Linked DNA regions of Homo sapiens. The protein of the gene in region 1 purifies or fractionates together with the protein of each later gene. This does not show direct contact. Each region holds a gene or a part of one and is shown in the gene's direction. Other genes may lie near its edges. The genes, in order: SPRR2A and WRAP73.

Evidence for each region.
Region 2: the proteins of SPRR2A (region 1) and WRAP73 purify together in Homo sapiens (co-immunoprecipitation; one large-scale study listed by IntAct). This does not show direct contact.

The regions. Positions count from the first base shown.
Region 1 is NC_000001.11:153,055,365-153,058,927, reverse strand, and holds SPRR2A (small proline-rich protein 2A), read left to right. Parts: upstream 1-1,415; 5' UTR 1,416-1,457; intron 1,458-2,173; 5' UTR 2,174-2,192; coding exon 2,193-2,411; 3' UTR 2,412-2,808; downstream 2,809-3,563. UniProt on the Homo sapiens protein: Gut bactericidal protein that selectively kills Gram-positive bacteria by binding to negatively charged lipids on bacterial membranes, leading to bacterial membrane permeabilization and disruption.
Region 2 is NC_000001.11:3,639,805-3,643,621, reverse strand, and holds part of WRAP73 (WD repeat-containing protein WRAP73), read left to right. Parts: intron 1-3,817.

The DNA.
Region 1 (3,563 bases):
AATGCTTAATATACAATATTTAGAAAACCTTATGATTGTAAAAGAGCTTAAAAAAGATGTGAAAGAACAATCACTAAATGCATTGACAACATATGTGTTAAGTGAACAATATGTACCAAAATGGACAGATGAGAGGTGTACATTGGGGTGTGAGTTGATAATCCAGCAGACTGTGGGACTAGAGGGTCTACGGAAAAAACAAAGGAAGAACATACAAACAAATTTTAAAACACTGTCTTTCAAACACCTAAAACCTGTTTGGAAATAGAGAGCAAGAATACATATTGGATTACACTTAGCTTTTATTTTCCTCTAGATTTCAGACTTTAAGTGCTCTGAACTTCTGCACTCTGCAAACCTACTTCTAATTATTTACATATGATAACATGAGTCTATGCAGCTTGTTCTCTATAGGATATTCACAGGACACTACAGAATGTTTTGGGAGATTATGTAATATTTAAAATATTCAAATTATACTAAAAATGTATGTAAAATGTATTGAACATAGGCAAGTTTCAATACATAGATTTTGAGTGAATGCTTGCAACTTTGGTTCCATTCTCTCTACTTCCTTAAGGTGGTGTCCAAGAGTACATTTTTATAAATAAAAAGTTATAGTACACATCCCTAAGGGCAGCAAGTAGAAAACGTGCTAGGGAGACTCGATCTCACTTTGGAATCTATCCTGGGAGACAAATGCCTCTACAAATGGATTAGAGAAGACAGTTTTAAAGAGGAAGATAATACAGGTAAAATCTGGGGTTTTATGAGAGAAAGAAAGAGGTAGAAGAAAAAATTTCAAGCTCGAACAGGGTCATCAGGTGGCACAATGCGGTCAATGCCTGCAAACTCAGGGGTAAGTATTATTCTCCCTGTTTACAGTTCCGTGGAGGAGAAGTGACTTGCCTGTGGTCATACAACAGAGCAAAGAAAAGGCTTGAGCTAGAACTCAGGCCTTTGTTAGGTCTCCCCTTCCTCCTAGCACATTGGCAAATTGCATGAGGAAAGTAGAGGTACAGTTGAGTTCATGTACAACAATAAGGCATTCAGGTAAAGTGAATGAGGGCAGAAGTTTTATGATTTAGGGAAGGTGTAAGACAGGAAAATATCTTTGTTCCCAATTAAGAAAGAGATCCCTTGACCATCAGTTAGAGATTCCCCCAAGTCCCTCTTTGCCATAAGTCACTGAAACTGAGATCCAAGGCATGGCTTCTGTGAGTCAGGAGAGCTTAACCCAGAGGAGAGATTTCAGAACAGGATATTTCCTATTTTGAGTATCCTGCTCATGCCAGTCATGGATAAATTTGCATCTGGCTTAAGAAATTACTGGATCAGCATTGTTTTGGGTAGTTTCACTTCCTGCTGGGTGGGGTAGCAGGCTCTATAAAGAGATCCTCTGCTGCACGACTCTTAAACCCCTGGTACCTGAGCACTGATCTGCCTTGGAGAACCTGGTGAGTCGGCTTCCTTGAGTTCCTCTGTTCTTTGTGCCCTGAAATGTTGAGTTTAATCTGAATATGGCAAGTTTGGTGGATCCAATCCTATGAAAATTGACTTGATGCTACTTAGTGGATGAAAATTTAAGATTAGAGCACAATTATATGCTATTTTAGCTTTCTTTTGTTATACAGGTAGGTATCCATATGGACAGAGAAGTTAAGGGGTAACCTTTGATATGAAGAAGAAAAAAGAACAAAGTATTTTTCTTTATTCTCTGTCTTTCTAGTGTCCTTTACAAAGGTTTGTGTCTTAGCAGGTGTGAAAGACTACAATTCTCCCTGAGCAGCCCTTTGCTCTATGCCCAAGTCAGCCCACTTGGACTTTATAACAGATAATGATGATAGGAATAGCATATTAGATTGCCCAGGGTGTCTGAACTTGTGACTGCCTTTCTTGAATTGGTTATTTTCAGGGAAATAAGATGCTTGATTCTTTATAACAGAGATAATTTATTTGGAAAAATTGTATGAGAAAACACAGGATTTCCTAGGGACAATGAAGCAATTTGTTAAAGTGGAAGGGAGAAACCAGAAAGTCTTGAAAAGGTAATTAAGAATTTAAATAATTTCTTGGAGATTGGAGAAATAATATGCCATGGTATTACACAAGCTTTGGCTTCTCTCTCTGGAGGATTCCCTTCCCACGAACACTGTTGTATCATTTCTTTCAGATCCTGAGACTCCAGCAGGATGTCTTATCAACAGCAGCAGTGCAAGCAGCCCTGCCAGCCACCTCCTGTGTGCCCCACGCCAAAGTGCCCAGAGCCATGTCCACCCCCGAAGTGCCCTGAGCCCTGCCCACCACCAAAGTGTCCACAGCCCTGCCCACCTCAGCAGTGCCAGCAGAAATATCCTCCTGTGACACCTTCCCCACCCTGCCAGTCAAAGTATCCACCGAAGAGCAAGTAACAGCTTCAGAATTCATCAGGACCAAGAAAGGATAAGGATATTTGGCTCACCTCGTTCCACAGCTCCACCTTCATCTTCTCATCAAAGCCTACCATGGATACACAGGGAGCTTCTTTCTCCTTAGCCAGTAATCTGCCCATGATGATCCCTGACAGCAAAAAGTTTCTTTTCTGAGGCTGCCATACTGCCACTGTCCAGGTGGAGACTGAGCAAAGGAAGTCCTGGGCTGTGCCAGCTCCCAGAGCTTCGGAAGAAAGAGCAGCAGCTCTCTCCCTGGGAACCATCAGAGAATTCTGTTGATGTGTTCTGTGTCTGTCTGTCACCTGGTCACGAGCTTCTACCACCTTTGCAATTGTCACTTATCTTTCACTCCCTGAATAAAGTATCTATGCATATATATTTGTGAATGGATCTTTTGTTTATTTTCAAATCTGCTTTATTAGCAATAGTATGTAATCTTTTGGATTTATTTCAATCTTTCTTTGATTCACAGCAGGATCTCACAATTGGAGTCATACCAAAGATTATTTCTGTATCATTTTAAACCCCTTTTATTTTCCCTAATTAGCATTTGATTGATTTGAGGAGGATATTATTCAACTTCTCTGAATTGACAACTTCTCTTTACTGCAAAGTGAGCAAAATAACATTTACATTACAAACTAGTCTAAGGCATAAAATTTGATTACTATCTGATATTTGGTTGGCACAATGCCTGACACGTAATTAGCTGTCATTTGATAGAGTTGTATTCGCAGCAACATATTATCATTGTTTTCACCATCACCATCCTCCTCCTCCTCCTCCTCATCATCATCACTCCCCACTACAACCACTACCATATTTGTTCCAGCAAGAGAGTGGCTTGGGTGTAACTAACATAGGAAATAAGAAGACTCTCTAATGTTATTTGTATTGATTCATAATACTTGTACACATTTACTGCATACATGTGATTTTTTACATGAATAGAATGTGTAATGATCAAGTCAGGATATCAGGAAATTTAGGGCATTCATCCCCTGCAGCATTTATCATTGTTCTTTATTGGGAACATTTTAATTCTAGCTATTTTGAAGAACACAGTACATTGTTGTATACCGTAGTCACCTTCCTCTGCTATCAAATATTAAAACTTACTCATTTTATGTA
Region 2 (3,817 bases), about 150 Mb from region 1:
GCTCAGCGGGGCCGCTGGGTCCCCTTCCGAAGGCGCGACCCCATTTCGGGGGTTAGTGGGGCCGCTGAGTCCACTTGCGAAGGCGCCACCCCACGTGAGGGTGCTGTGGAGCATGGGAGACGTCCCTGCCTCTTGCATTTTAACGTGAAAAGGCAAGCTTGCGCCCATTAGACGAGGTTCAGTGAGTCATCAAAAGCGGCTCACCCCTAGGCCTGCAGCGGAACACTGCCGCGCTTTCAGAGCCCTTCTCTTCCTCGTAGCAATGCCCTCCCCACCTGAGGGCACCTTTGCCCCACGTCTTGCGTGAATCACATCCTCACTGTTCTTGAGTCTCACTGTACAGATGTGTCTAAACACCACATTGCTTGCTGTGCAGTGTAAAGTTGATTTATAGGGGCTTGTACTTTGCAGTCTCTGCTGTTGCTGTTCCCCGTCACTGCTTTTAGACTCCTCCGTGTTGACAGGCATCGCTGGGCCTTCCCTTCCTCGTGAGGAACGCCATTCAGTCCTCGCCTGCTGGACGTGTGCGTCACCACGGACGGTGTGGCTGTGAACGTGTTGTCCCCGTCTCCTGGGCACATACCCGGAGAGCCTCTCTAGGAGAGCCTTGCTTGGCCGTAGCAGACGGAGGGGTTTCATTTGCCAAGGCTTTTGTGGCAGGATTACAATGATTCCATCCAGGCGACTAAATGATACTGCAGTTTGGATTTAGTTTGCGTTTCCCTAATTCTCGGTGAGGTTGAGTGCTTTCCTATCTTGTTTCATTACACACAGACGCTCACACATGCTCCATTTAAATGAAGCAGGTTCACGTAGTGGGGCACACTGTGGGGTCTGAATCCATTTCTACCTTTTCCCAGCAGCATTTTTTTTTTTTTTTTTTTGAGATGGAGTTTCGCTCTTGTCCCCCAGGCTGTAGTGCAATGGTGTGATCCAAGCTCACCGCAACCTACGCCTCCCAGGTTCAAGCGATTTTCCTGCCTCAGCCTCCCGAGTAGCTGGGATTACAGGCATGCGCCACCACGCCTGGCTAATTTTGTATTTTTAGTAGAGATGGGGTTTCTCATGTTGGTCAGGCTGGTCTCAAACTCTCGACCTCAGTTGATCTGCCTGCCTCGGCCTCCCAAAGTGCTGGGATTACAGGTGTGAGCCACCGTGCCCAGCTCCCAGCAGCATTTATTTAGAAGGCTATCTTCACCAGCTATAGCAGGAGCTCAGTTCCATTATACCTGCAGGATCACTTCTGGTTTCCATTCCAGTCCACTGTTGGTCCACCTATGTGCCAGCACCACACTGTCTACATTATTGAGGTTCTATGGTGTGTTTGAATATCTGATGGGACTGATTCCTCTTCATTGCTCTTGTAGTCTGTCAGATTTTTTAAAAACAATTTTTTTGTAGAGTTGGGGTCTCCCTTTGTTTCCCAGGCTGGTCTCGAGCTCCTAAACTCACGCAATCCTTCCTTCCCAGCCTCCTGTATAGCTGGCATTACAGGTGCACAACAGTGCGCCCGGCTCTGCCAGATTTTTAAATGTATTTTTGAGACTTTGTTGTTAGCTGCATACAAACTTTTAACTGTTTGTAAACAGATTTCCTAGTGAAGCGGTTCCCATGATTCCGCGGTGGCACAGGCCTTTTGTTGTAAAGTATTCCTCTTTATGTCTCACGGTTCTTTTTGTTTCAGAGTCTGATTTATCCCGTACGAATGCGGCAGTGCCACCTTTCTCTTGGTTAGGATTTTCTTGATATGTCTTTTTCTATCCTTTTACCTTCTACATTTCTGCATCCTTAAACTTGAGTGTGTATGTTGTAAATAGTCTATAGTTAGCTTTAAAAATATATCCAGACTGCAGACTTTTTCTTATATCTGAATAAAGGCAATTAAAACAATTTATAAGCAAGAGAATTCACCCACTTTAAGAGCACAGTTGAGTGAGTCACTTTGCACGTCATTGCCGCCACAATCAGGACCAAGACTGTTCGCCCGTGGCATGGGGCTCCTCGTGCCCCTTGTGCTCAGTCCGTCTCCCACCTGTGTCCGGCAGCCGGTGCCTGCTGCGGGGCGAGCAGCACTGCCTACTCGGAATCCCATCTGCACAGAGCCATGGTGCGTGGAGCTGTGCGTCTGCTTCCTTTTCCCTGGCATCTTGCTGGTTTTGAGTGTGCTGGGTTGTGGGGTGGATCAGTGGCCCGTTCCTCCATCTTGAGAGTGCTGGGTCATGGTGTGGAGAGAGTGCTGGGTCGTGGCATGGATCAGTGGCCTGTTCCTCCCGTCTTGAGTGTACTGGGTCATGGCTTGGATCCGTGGCCCATTCCTCTCACCCTGAGCATGCTGAGTTGTGGTGTGGATCGGTGGCCCGTTCCTTCCGTCTTCAGCACACTGGGTCGTAGCGTGGATCAGCGGCCCCTTCCTTCCCTCCTGAGTGCTCTGGGTCATGTGGATCCCTCTGGTCCTTTCTTCCTGCTGCTGAGTGCTGTGGAGCCCATCCCACGGGTCTCCTCCGCTGGCTTCTCCAGTGGTCAGTGGAAGGTAACAGCGCTGATGAAGGTGTATATTTAACTACCTTTTTTTCTTATTGGGTTTTTAAAAGTTGCAAAGTTATCTTTTAAAGGTTTTTGTTTCTTTGTTTTTGTGAGATGAAGGTAAAAATCAGGCTTAAAGTGCTCCCTGTGTTTCCTAAGATGTGCCTGAGTGGGGAGCCTCGGCCAGGCGCACCCCACAGGGATGCAGGGCCACAGGTGGGAGATGTGCTTTTCTCCTGTGACTCTGCAGTAGGCTCTGGAGGGCAGGTCTCTGCCCTGGGTGGCACATGGACTCTCCTGATGCTGAGAGGCTCGGGCGCTGCACCCCGCCCTGCTGATGCTGAGATGCTTGGGTGCTCCACCCCGCCCTGCTGATGCTGAGATGCTCCGTTGCTGCACCCTGCCCTGCTGATGCTGAGATGCTCGGGCGCTCCACCCTGCCCTGCTGATGCTCAGAGCCTCGGGCGCTCCACCCCGCCCTGCTGACGCTCAGAGCCTGGGGCGTTCCACCCTGCCCTGCTGATGCTCAGAGCCTCGGGCGCTGCACCCCGCCCTGCTGATGCTCAGAGCCTCGGGCGCTGCACCCCGCCCTGCTGATGCTCAGAGCCTCGGGTGTTCCACCCTGCCCTGCTGATGCTCAGAGCCTCGGGCGCTCCACCCCGCCCTGCTGATGCTGAGATGCTCGGGCGCTCCACCCCGCCCTGCTGATGCTCAGAGCCTCAGGCGCTGCACCCACCCTGCTGAGTCTGAGAGGCTTGGGCAAGGTTTCAGCCTCAGACACGCTGGTGGGAAGTAGCACGCTTCCTCGCTCAGGCCCCAGCGCCCTCCTTGGCCTCAGCTTGTGGAGCTGTTAGAGGAGCAAGTGCTCTGTGCAGCTGGAGTTCCGAGGCATGGTCCCCAGAACGGCCAGTGTGTTTCGGGTTCAGCATCAGCACAGGAGCCCTTCCGTGCTGCCACGTGACCCCTGGAGCTCGTTGATCCACTACCTGTGTGTTCAGGACTTCTCTCCTGAACGCTGTATATGTTGTTTGGAGAAACAATTACAGACATCAGATTTTCTTTTCTGTTGTAAGAAGAGATGATGCGTAGACATTTAAATTAAATCATTTGTTAATATCCTATACTGACAACCTGGCAGCGTTTGCAGGAGTGACACTGTGGACATGCTGTGCCCCACACGCTGCGGCCCCACTTACGCTGCTGGAGACGGTCCCCCACCCCGGGCCTCATCCTCAGCGAGGACCCCTGCCTGACACACACGGAGCTGGCAGTCAGCACCCCACCCCGCATGGAG